Homo sapiens: one gene and its partners. The protein of the gene in region 1 interacts with the protein of each later gene in a pairwise test. Each region holds a gene or a part of one and is shown in the gene's direction. Other genes may lie near its edges. The genes, in order: ABCF2, UPF2 and HADHA.

Region 1 (3,344 bases):
AGAGGCAGGGACAGTGACTAGCCCAGGATTAAGTCCAGGTTTTGCTTTCTAGGTTGCACAGGAAATTTGGGTCTGTGAGAAGCAGACAATCACCAAGTGGCCTGGAGACATCCTGGCTTACAAGGAGCACCTCAAGTCCAAGCTGGTGGATGAGGAGCCCCAGCTCACCAAGAGGACCCACAACGTGTGAGCCCTCTACCTGGGTTCGGGTCAGGAGCTCCATCTGGGAACTAACAGCTGCTAACCTGACCAGCCGCTCAGGACAGGACCCTGGGGCTACACTCCTGCATTGCTGCAATACTGCTCCCCCAGCCTCTCCCCTGCCCCTCAACCTGCCTTAGCTGCACTCTCTTACCTACAGCTGGACAGTACCTGTCTGTTTCCTGTCCTCCTTCCAGTTACATCTGTCCATGTCTGGACTCGGCTGGCCGTTCCCTCCAGCCCCTTGCTGGTTATCTTACTCTGAGTGTGATGCAGTCAGAGGCACCTGCGGGTTAGCCCAGGGGCCCAAGCCCTGGATTTGGCCTGCGGAGGAGCTTAGGATCCTCGTTTTCTGGGTTTTGGTGATGTTGGAGGAGTACCCCCCAGCCCACCGCCCCGATTCCTTTTTGCTTCTGGTTTGGAGCTCCGGACCAGGACCTTCGTCCTGGTCAGTTTTTAAATAATTATTTAGCAGTGTAACTTTTAGACCTGCGTGACATCTACAAAGCGCCCAATAAAGAAAGAGGAAGCCACGGTCCCTACCTTCCTTCTCGGGTCTCTGGGGCCTTCTCCTCCCTGCAGTGCCAACATGCACTGCCCACAGCAGGAGCTGGATCCAGCGTCAGTGTGTCGATGGGAACTGAAGACTAGTCCATAGGAGCTGGAAGAACTTTGTCCCTTTACTTCTGATTTGAAATTGTACCTTTTCTCAGGCCTGTGATTCACAGACTTTAACATGAATCAGAATCACCTGGAGGGCTCATGCAATCAGATTGCCAGATCTCGCCTCAGCGTTTCTGGTTCAATAGGTTTTGGGGGAGACCAAGAACGTTAACATTTCTAGCAAGTTTCCAGGTGATGCTGTTGTTGCTGGTCTAGAGACTATTTTGAGAACCACTGTCCAGGAGCGTGGTTTTCTGATTGTGATCTGAGGTTCTGCCCCAACTGCACAGCAGTTGGGCTGCTTGTTAAAAATGCAGGCCAGGTGCGGTGGCTCACACCTGTAATCCCAGCGCTTTGGGAGGCTGAGGCAGGTGGATCACTTGAGCTCAGGAGTTCAAGACCAGCTTGGGAAACATGGCAAAACCCGTCTTTATGTGCCTGGAATCCCACCTGCTCAGGTGGCTAGGGTGGATGGATCGCTTGAGCCCAGGAGGTGGAGGTTGCAGTGAGCTGAGATTGCACCACTGCATTCCAGCCTGGATGACAGAGCAAAACCCTGTCTCAAAAAAATGCAGACTGGCCAGGCACAGTGGCTCACACCTGTAATCCGACTGTAAGCTCATCACCTTGGGAGGCCACTGTAGGAGGATCAATTGAGCCTAGAAGTTCAAGACCAGCCTGGGCAAAGTAGGGAGACCCCTTCTCTACAAATAGTAATAAAATGAACCGGGCATAGTAGCATGTGCCTGCGGTCCCAGCTGCTCTGATAAGAGGAGGCTCACTTGAGCCCAGGAGGTTGAGGCTGCAGTGAGCAGAGCGTGCCGCTACACTCCAGCCTGATGACAGACCGAGACACTGTCTCAAAAAAATAAAAAAATTCAGATTGCTGAGCATCAGACCTATTGATTAATCGCATTTGGTAGAATGAGAGAGGTGCAGAGATGGCCAGGAGTTTGCATTTTCACACCAACGTCTGTGAACCTCTCTTCCTATTGGGATACAGGAAATTTTGTATTTTTACCTGTCCACAGCCATAGTTATCATCACTGTTGAATTCACTTCCAGCCCAGGGCTCTGCATACCTTATCTGGGTCTTTTGAACTTCAATAGCATTTCACCAGTGGCCATCCTTCCTGGTGTGGATTCATCACTCTGCCTCTGAAATCAGCCATCCCTATGGGAAGACACAGCCATGATTTTTCAGTACTCATAATACAGCCAGGACTGGCGGGAGCAACTGTCCCAGATGGTGCTTAAACCCCTTAGGAGCTCATGATCTTCTTGGAAAGCCAGTAAGACAGAACCATACAGGACACAAATTAGATGCTAAATTGTGATTTAGATAGGAGACAGAAGTATTCAAAAAGGAGGGAAATTTCTTGTGAGTAGCTGCCCAGAAAGGTGGAATTGGTGTGCTCTCACTTGAAAAATGAGTAGGATCTTCTCAGATGGCCACAAAGTCCAGGAGCTGCCCTGGGCAACAGGGACAGGAGCCTCCCGTGAGACACTGCAGCTGAGACAGATGGGAGTCCTCTGACCCCAGAGGGTACTGGCTTGACTGCTTTATGCCTTAAGTGGGGCCTGGAGCAAAATGGCCCAGGTTAGTCTGTCCTGAGAGTCCAGAGCCTTGGTTCAGGGGAGAATGGCATCTGGAGAGTGGGCTGCTGGGATAATGGGGACAGTGAGGGACAGAGCCCTTGATACTTAAGGAAGTGCTGGATATTGCTAAGAATTCAGGTAGTCTCGGGATCTCCAGAGTCTCCATACTAGGACAGGAGATCTTCAGAACCTGGAGGAATGGAAATAGTCTAGTCAGCTTATTTGTCAAGAAAAATGTCAACCTTGGTAATTTAAATAATGCTTTAAAAGTCCACAAAATACATATTTCTAAAATTAGCAGTGCCTTGTTTTGGATTGAGAAGTGGCCTGTTAATTCTCTTAAACCTTAGCCCGTAGGATGTGGCCAGCCGTTCAGAGCTGGGTGGAGAGGTAAGTTGATTGAGGGGTTGCTAGCTTTAACACAGCCAGCAGGTGATGCTGGTCTTTGGAACCCTTCTCCCACCTCTCAATTTGTAACATCCTCTTTTCCCCCAAGCCCCTATACCTTTCATATTGCTCCAGGTTTCTTTAATCACAGCATTCAAGGGCCTGAAGTATTTGTTCCCCCATAGGTGCTAAGTGAGACAATTGACTTTCTCCATTTTGCAATGGGCTTTTCTTCCCTTTACTGCTAACTCCCAAGACCGCCACGTCTGCTTTTCTGGTGAGCACCTATTGCTTTTCTGCTTCTCACCTCCTCCAGTGGTCTTCCTCCCTGTCAGCCTCTTCACCACCTGGGGAGCTTCTGCTATCTGCATCTAGTCCAGGCTCAGGCGTTTTGCTCATCTGCCTTCAGTCCAAGCCTCATTATACTCCGCTCACACTGATTCCACTCTACCTTTCACACCGTTTCTTTCTCTCATTCTTCCCAATTAAAGGAT
Region 2 (3,500 bases), on another chromosome or scaffold:
ATGGCCTAAATTTAAGCAAATACATTGCAGAAGCTGTAGCTTCCATCGTGGAAGCAAAACTAAAAATCTCTGATGTGAACTGTGCTGTGCACCTCTGCTCTCTCTTTCACCAGCGTTATGCTGACTTTGCCCCATCACTTCTTCAGGTCTGGAAAAAACATTTTGAAGCAAGGAAAGAGGAGAAAACACCTAACATCACCAAGTTAAGAACTGATTTGCGTTTTATTGCAGAATTGACAATAGTTGGGATTTTCACTGACAAGGAAGGTCTTTCCTTAATCTATGAACAGCTAAAAAATATTATTAATGCTGATCGGGAGTCCCACACTCATGTCTCTGTAGTGATTAGTTTCTGTCGACATTGTGGAGATGATATTGCTGGACTTGTACCAAGGAAAGTAAAGAGTGCTGCAGAGAAGTTTAATTTGAGTTTTCCTCCTAGTGAGATAATTAGTCCAGAGAAACAACAGCCCTTCCAGAATCTTTTAAAAGAGTACTTTACGTCTTTGACCAAACACCTGAAAAGGGACCACAGGGAGCTCCAGAATACTGAGAGACAAAACAGGTGATTTTCAAATGTTTCTCAGAGTTGAGAATTTATTTTGGAGCTCATACTTAAAAATGTTTAAAGTCTTCATGCCACTGAAAGAACTTATGGAAAAGGGCTCCTTACAGGTGATTTCTTAACATTCCAGGAAAATTTCAAAGTAGAACAGTCTGAGTACTCATGTTTTAATGTGAGTCTACGATAGATTTTGTTTCTGATTTTAAAAAAATCTGCCAAGTAGATGGTGATTTTTGCTTTGTGGATGTGTATTCTTCCTGTGATTTTAAATACTCCTTAATAATCAAGGGGTAAAATTTCCTTTTCTGTCACTTAAACTTACCTGCTAATATTTTTCTGTGTGCTTTAACGTTCTCTCTATAACAGGTTTGCTTTCATTGTTTTGTATTTTAAGTTCTTTATGTCACTGTTGCTCTTCTTAAGAAAATGAGTCATTAATTACCAGTGGTATTTCAGATTAGAGTTTTGGGAAATAATGCACAAAATTAGCTGTGAAAAAATTTCTTAAATGCAACTACAAAACTCATTTGTAGGAGTCTTCTTCCTGGGGGCATTCATTTAAAATTCTAAAGGAGGAATGTACTGTGCCTGTGGTAATTGGTGAAAAGACCTGACTTTGGGGCCAATTTTGGTTGTTAAAAGGTATGGTAGACTACTGTGTAGTATTTGTACCTGAGGAGCAACAAGAAGCTAGAAGTTGATGGAGTTGCTAGGCATTAGGTCAATTTCTATGGAGGATGGATTTGGAGGGGGGCTGAGGGAGTGTAGCAAAGAGGTAATAGCCATAGCACGTGGCTGAGTATTAAACTATTTTAATATTTCTACAACTATTTATATTGCATGGTTGAGAATCTGAAATTACTGTTGATCAGAAATTTGTATAGGAGGAGATCCTTTTCTAGTTTCATAAGTCTGTGGTAGGGGAGGAGTGGTTTAAGTAGTTACCACTAGAAGATGATTGACCAGAAGATTGAACAGGAGTAGTGTATGCCAGTAGTACAGTTAGGGCAGGGTCAAGGTAGAGACTGTGGTTAAATCTTTGTGGCTGAAGGTCACTCAGAGGTGAGAATTTAAGACGGCAAAGGTGTTATCAATAGTTCTTTTAGGAAAAAGGAAAAGGCTTATCCTTGTTTTGTGTTTTGATTTGCGAGGACTGGTTTAAACTTTGAAGAGGCAACCTGAGAGTGTACTTGTACCATCAGTAATGGACTAAAAAGGATTATGGTGGTGCTTTATTCATACTTCTCACTTACTTAGGGCTTAATTATGATTTCCATATGCTTTGTCAATTTCATAGTCCTTTGCTCGTACATCCTACCTAATACATCATAACTGATTTGTGAGTATGCTAATAGTATGCTAATGATTGATTAGTTCTTGGCTACTTTGAGGGTGTATGTGTGTGTATTTGCTTTTGATTGGACTCAGAATCTTGGAGAGTGGAGAGATTCTACGATGTTTTAATCCAATCCATTCACCTTTCCAAAGTAGGAATACATTTTTTAGATTATCTAACAGATAAAATTATTTTTCCTCTGAATACTTCCCAAAGGAGCTCAGTTCTCTCGGTGCCATTGCACTGTTGGAAACACTATGGGCTAGGAATTCTTTGTTACATCAGGTGGAAATTTAACTTCCCACAAAATGATTCCCTTTGATTTGGTTCTTTTTTCTGGTATGGATGGAATACAGGTACTTGAAGTAGGAAATCTATGAACTTGTAACCTGTTCACAATTTAATGAAACACAGAAAGTGAGAGTGAGCATTTAGAAATTATTATAGGAATTTTCAGGCTGGAAATGGTGGCTCACACCTGTAATCCCAGCACTTTGGGAGGCCAAGGTGGGTGGATCATCTGAGGTCAGGAGTTTGAGACCAGCCTGGCCAACATGGTGAAACCCCGTCTCTACTAAAAATGCAAAAATTAGCCGGGCATGGTGGCAGGCCCCGGTAATCCCAGCTACTTGTGGGGGACTGAGGCAGGAGAATCACTTGACCCTGGGAGGTGGAGGTTGCAGTGAGCCGAGATTGTGCCATTGCACTCCAGCCTGGAGGACAAGAGCGAGACTTCGTCCTAAAAAAAAAAAAAAAAAAAAAGTTTATAGGAATTTTCAGTGGTCATGGTATTCTTACTATATTTTTACAGAAGTGTCCAGTGGTTGGGGAAGGAAAGGTGGCCCTTTACCACAGATGGTTTGAGGAATACCAGTAGAGGACATATGTGTCCACTTTTATTCCCATGACAGTATCTCAGATATTCAGACTGCCGTGATGTTTCCCTTTTCTCGTCTCCATGTTAAATACCTCCAGTTCTTTCAGTTTGCTCCATGATTTCCAGACACTTCACTACTCTTAGGATACTTGTTTTGGATGCATTCTTTTCTATCTGTGACCTAAAATTGCCTTAGTTTTTATAGCTACCTTGTTGTTCTTTTGGTTTTTGTTAAACTTATTTGCACTGAAGCTTTATTTCTCATATGAACTGCTGACAAGCCACTTCTTCTTCACCTTAAACTAGTGAAATACAATTTTTAAAGCCTAAATGTGTACTTGCATATCTCTGTTAAACTTTATTTAGATGCTTTTTGTATATTATTTTAGCTTTATGAAAGCTTTGGATATTGATTACATGTGTATTATTAATAGTACTGGCAGGGTGCGGTGGCTCACGCCTGTAATGTCAGCACTTTGGGAGGCTGAGGCAGAAGGATCGCTTGAGCCCAGGAGTTTGAGACTAGCCTGGGCAACATGCTGAAACCCCATTGCTACAAAAAATATAAAAATTAGCTGGGTGTGGTGGCATGCGCTTGTAGTCTCAGCTACTTGGGGGCTGAGGTGGGAGGATCAGTTGAGCCTGGAAAGTCGAGACTGCAGTAAGCCATGATCGCACCACTGCACTCTAGCCTGGGCGACAGAGAGAGACCCTGTCTCGAA
Region 3 (3,733 bases), on another chromosome or scaffold:
AGGCAGGAGGATCACTTCAGCCCAGGAGTTTGAGACCACCCTGGGCAACATAGCAAGACCTTGTCTCTATAAAAAATAAAAAATAGTTGGGTATGGTGATGTTCACCTGTAGTGCTAGCTACTCTGAAGGCTGAGGTGGAAAGATCACTTAAGCCTAGGAATTCAAGGTTACAGTGAGCTATGATTGCACCACTGCACTCCAGCCTGGGCCACAGAGCAAGACCTTGTCTCTCTAAAAAACAACAACAACAAACTTATAGCCAGAGGCTTAGATGTAATAAGACCTAGATGGAAGCAGTTGACAACTATCACAAATTAAGGTAAATAAGAGCCATTCCCCTTTACTAGAGTAAATTTTAGCACTCACTAACCAATGATTCAAGCTTAAGATATTTTTTCAGAATTTTCTTAGGTTGGACATTTTTCCTGAACACAAAAGTAATATATGTCAATGGTAGAAAATTTTTCAACTATAAAAAATTATAAAGAAGAAAATAATAAACATTCATAATTCAAACCTAAAGATAACCACATCTTTTTCTTGGTATCTTCCATGGGATAATCACATTTAATTCAGTTTCAATGAATAATATTTACAAAACTAAGATCATACTATATGGTTTTTTTTGAAGATAGGGTCTCATTCTGTTGCCTAGGCTGGAGTGCAGTGGCACAGTCACAGGTTAGTGCAGCTTCAGCCTCCCCAGGCTCAGGTGATCCTCCCACCTAAGCCTCCTGAGTAGCTGGGACTATAGGCGTGTGCTGTCAGGCCCGGCTAATTTTTGTATTTTCTGTAGAGGCAAGGTTCCATTATGTTGCCCAGGCTGGTCTCGAACTCCTGAACTCAAGTGATCCGCCCACCTTGGCCTCCCAAAGTGCAGGGATTACAGGGATGAGCCACCATGCCTGGCCTATATGTCTTATTTGTATTTCATTTTTTTCTTAACATTATGCAGATTTTTTCCATGCCAATAAATGTTTGTAGACCTATTTGTTTATAGCCTACATATGATTCAAACTCTGAGGATGACCCTGAGTTTCTCCTTTGAGAAGACCTATTTTTAAAGGAAGGGGTGCTTGTAGTGGGCCAAAGCTGCCTGAATAGAAAGCTACTGACTTGCTGGGAGAATGATATTTCTTACTCTCTTCTAACAGTATATTTCTGCCGGATAAGTATATTTCTTATAATCAAAATAGCATTTGATGGTGGTACGTACATCCAGTGCTTCAAATTTAAACCCTTACCTGTATATATTTCCCTTTGGCAGGTAAATACACTGAGTAAAGAGCTACATTCAGAGTTCTCAGAAGTTATGAATGAAATCTGGGCTAGTGATCAAATCAGAAGTGCCGTCCTTATCTCATCAAAGCCAGGCTGCTTTATTGCAGGTGCTGATATCAAGTAAGTTTTAGGAAACTTGAAGTCACCTTTTATCTTGGTTAATAGTGTGTTTCTTAGGCCTAATAATTTCTCCTTTTAAAAGAAAGTAGAAGTGCTGGGCACAGTGACACAGGCCTGTAAAATTGAAAATGTACGTATCAGGCTGGGTGTGGTGGTTCTTGCCTGTAATCCCAGCACTTTGGGAGGCCGAGGCAGGTGGATCACATGAGGCCAAGAGCTCAAGACCAGCCTGGCCAACATGGTGAAACCCTGTCTCCACTAAAAATACAAAAATTAGGCATGGTGGCACACGCTTGTAATCTCAGCTACTCAGGAGGCTGTGGCACGAAAATCCCTTGAACCTGGGAGGCAGAGGTTGCAGTGAGCCGAGATCACACCACTGCACTCCAGCCTGGGTGACAGAGTGAGACTGTCTTAAAAAAAAAAAGTATATACACACACACACACACACACACACACACACACACACACACAGAGTATATATATATATATATACACACACACACACACACACATCATGTGATCTAGAGAAATCTCACCCCTTGTTTATAAGAACCAGTGTACAAGGATGTTTGGTCCTGTGTAGTGTGAAATAATGAAGAATTTAAAACCAAATGTCAGTCAGTAGGAAAATGGGTAAGTAAAATGTGGACTATTCACACAATAGAATACTACAAAACAGGTAAAAGGAATTAACTAGATCCACAATATGATGTTAGAACTCAAAAACATAAGGTTAAGTTAAAAGAAAAGCAAATTGCAGAATGTTTCATACAGTATATAGTTTCTATAAATGTTTTAAAACCAAACATGGAATAATTCTTGATACTATTTATGGACACAATCGTAGTTGGTCTGGAAGGAGACACTACAAACATGAAGATGGCTGCTTTGGGGAAATGAAGTGGGTGGTAGGACTTGATTGTTAAAGGCAGCTTTACAGATGCAGCTAGTATTTTCTTTTCCTCTGCTAAATGGTGGAATGCATGCCTACATTAACTTATTTACAATTGTTTACACATACATAAGGAGGGGAAATGATATTTTAGTGTCAGTTTAATAGGTTAAAATGTTAAGTTGTCAATTCCATTAAAATATGGGTATTTGTTATGTTCTTTGTATTTTAGACAATGATAGCCAGCATTGTAGGTTTAGTAATTTGTACTGAAAGTGTAATTATTTATGTGTAGTAATCAGTCTCTTGTTAGGCACAAATAATTCAGCTAGAAGAAAAACCACTTGATAAGATAATTTTGGGTCTTCTAAAAAATTAACATTAAACAGAACATTTATAAAGTCTAACAAGACACTGATGTACCTGGCAGTAGCTACCTATATCCAGAGGAAAATACATGTAGCTTCTATGAGGCCAGCTGAGCAACTCTCAGTGTATAAAATTACAGAATATACTAGTTATCCTTGGTCAAAAGTACAAAATCCATATCCTAAGTGTGTTCACAAAATAGCAAATGAAACAAACTGAAATTAAAGGACATTGAGTGGAACATCATTGCACCTGATCATTTTTATTTACTTATTTATTTTTGAGACGGAGTCTCCCTCTGCTGTCCAGGCTGGAGTACAGTGGTGCGATCTCGGCCCACTGCAACCTCCACCTCCCAGGTTCCAGTGATTCTCTCGCCTCAGCCTCCCGAGTAGCCAGGACTACAGGAATGCAGCACCACGCCCAGCTAATTTTTGTATTTTTAGTAGAGACGCGGTTTCACCATGTTGACCAGCCTGGTCTCGAACTCCTGACCTCAGGTGATCCACCTGCCTTGGCCTCTCAAAGTGCTGGGATTACAGGCATGAGCCACCATGCCTGGCCTACCTGGTCATTTTTATTCATTAGTGGGATCTGTTAAAATGTTTTAGATTTCTCTAAACAACCTGGAAGCTTTTCTTTTGCGTCATTTTTATTGCTGTTAACTACCTGATAGTGAAATGTTTAATCTGATAGTGAAGTAATTTACCAAAGATGATTTTCCCTTGTACCAAGCTTTGTAATTTAATGATTTATTACAGAAGTAAAAATAAATTATGCAACACATTTATGTTTTCTGGATCCAGAATTTTTTTTTTTTTTTTTGAGACAGAGTCTCACTCTGTCGCCCAGGCTGGAGTGCAGTGGCGCGATCTCGGCTCACTGCAAGCTCCACCTCCCGGTTTCACACTGTTCTCCTGCCTCAGCCTCCCAAGTAGCTGGGACTACAGGCGCCCGCCACTATGCCCAGCTAATTTTTTGTATTTTTAGTAGAGACGGGGTTTCACCGTGTTAGCCGGGATGGTCTCATGGATCCAGAAGTTTAACACTCTTTATGGAGAAATGAT

What was found.
Region 2: the proteins of ABCF2 (region 1) and UPF2 interact in a two-hybrid assay, tested with the Homo sapiens proteins (one large-scale study listed by BioGRID).
Region 3: the proteins of ABCF2 (region 1) and HADHA interact in a two-hybrid assay, tested with the Homo sapiens proteins (one large-scale study listed by BioGRID).

What each region holds. Positions count from the first base shown.
Region 1 is NC_000007.14:151,210,900-151,214,243, reverse strand, and holds the end of ABCF2 (ATP-binding cassette sub-family F member 2), read left to right. Parts: intron 1-52; coding exon 53-190; 3' UTR 191-2,760; downstream 2,761-3,344. Other genes in the region: ABCF2-H2BK1 (ABCF2-H2B protein), read left to right, coding at 53-186.
Region 2 is NC_000010.11:12,025,810-12,029,309, reverse strand, and holds part of UPF2 (regulator of nonsense transcripts 2), read left to right. Parts: coding exon 1-565; intron 566-3,500. UniProt on the Homo sapiens protein: Involved in nonsense-mediated decay (NMD) of mRNAs containing premature stop codons by associating with the nuclear exon junction complex (EJC).
Region 3 is NC_000002.12:26,234,524-26,238,256, reverse strand, and holds part of HADHA (trifunctional enzyme subunit alpha, mitochondrial precursor), read left to right. Parts: intron 1-1,268; coding exon 1,269-1,402; intron 1,403-3,733. UniProt on the Homo sapiens protein: Mitochondrial trifunctional enzyme catalyzes the last three of the four reactions of the mitochondrial beta-oxidation pathway.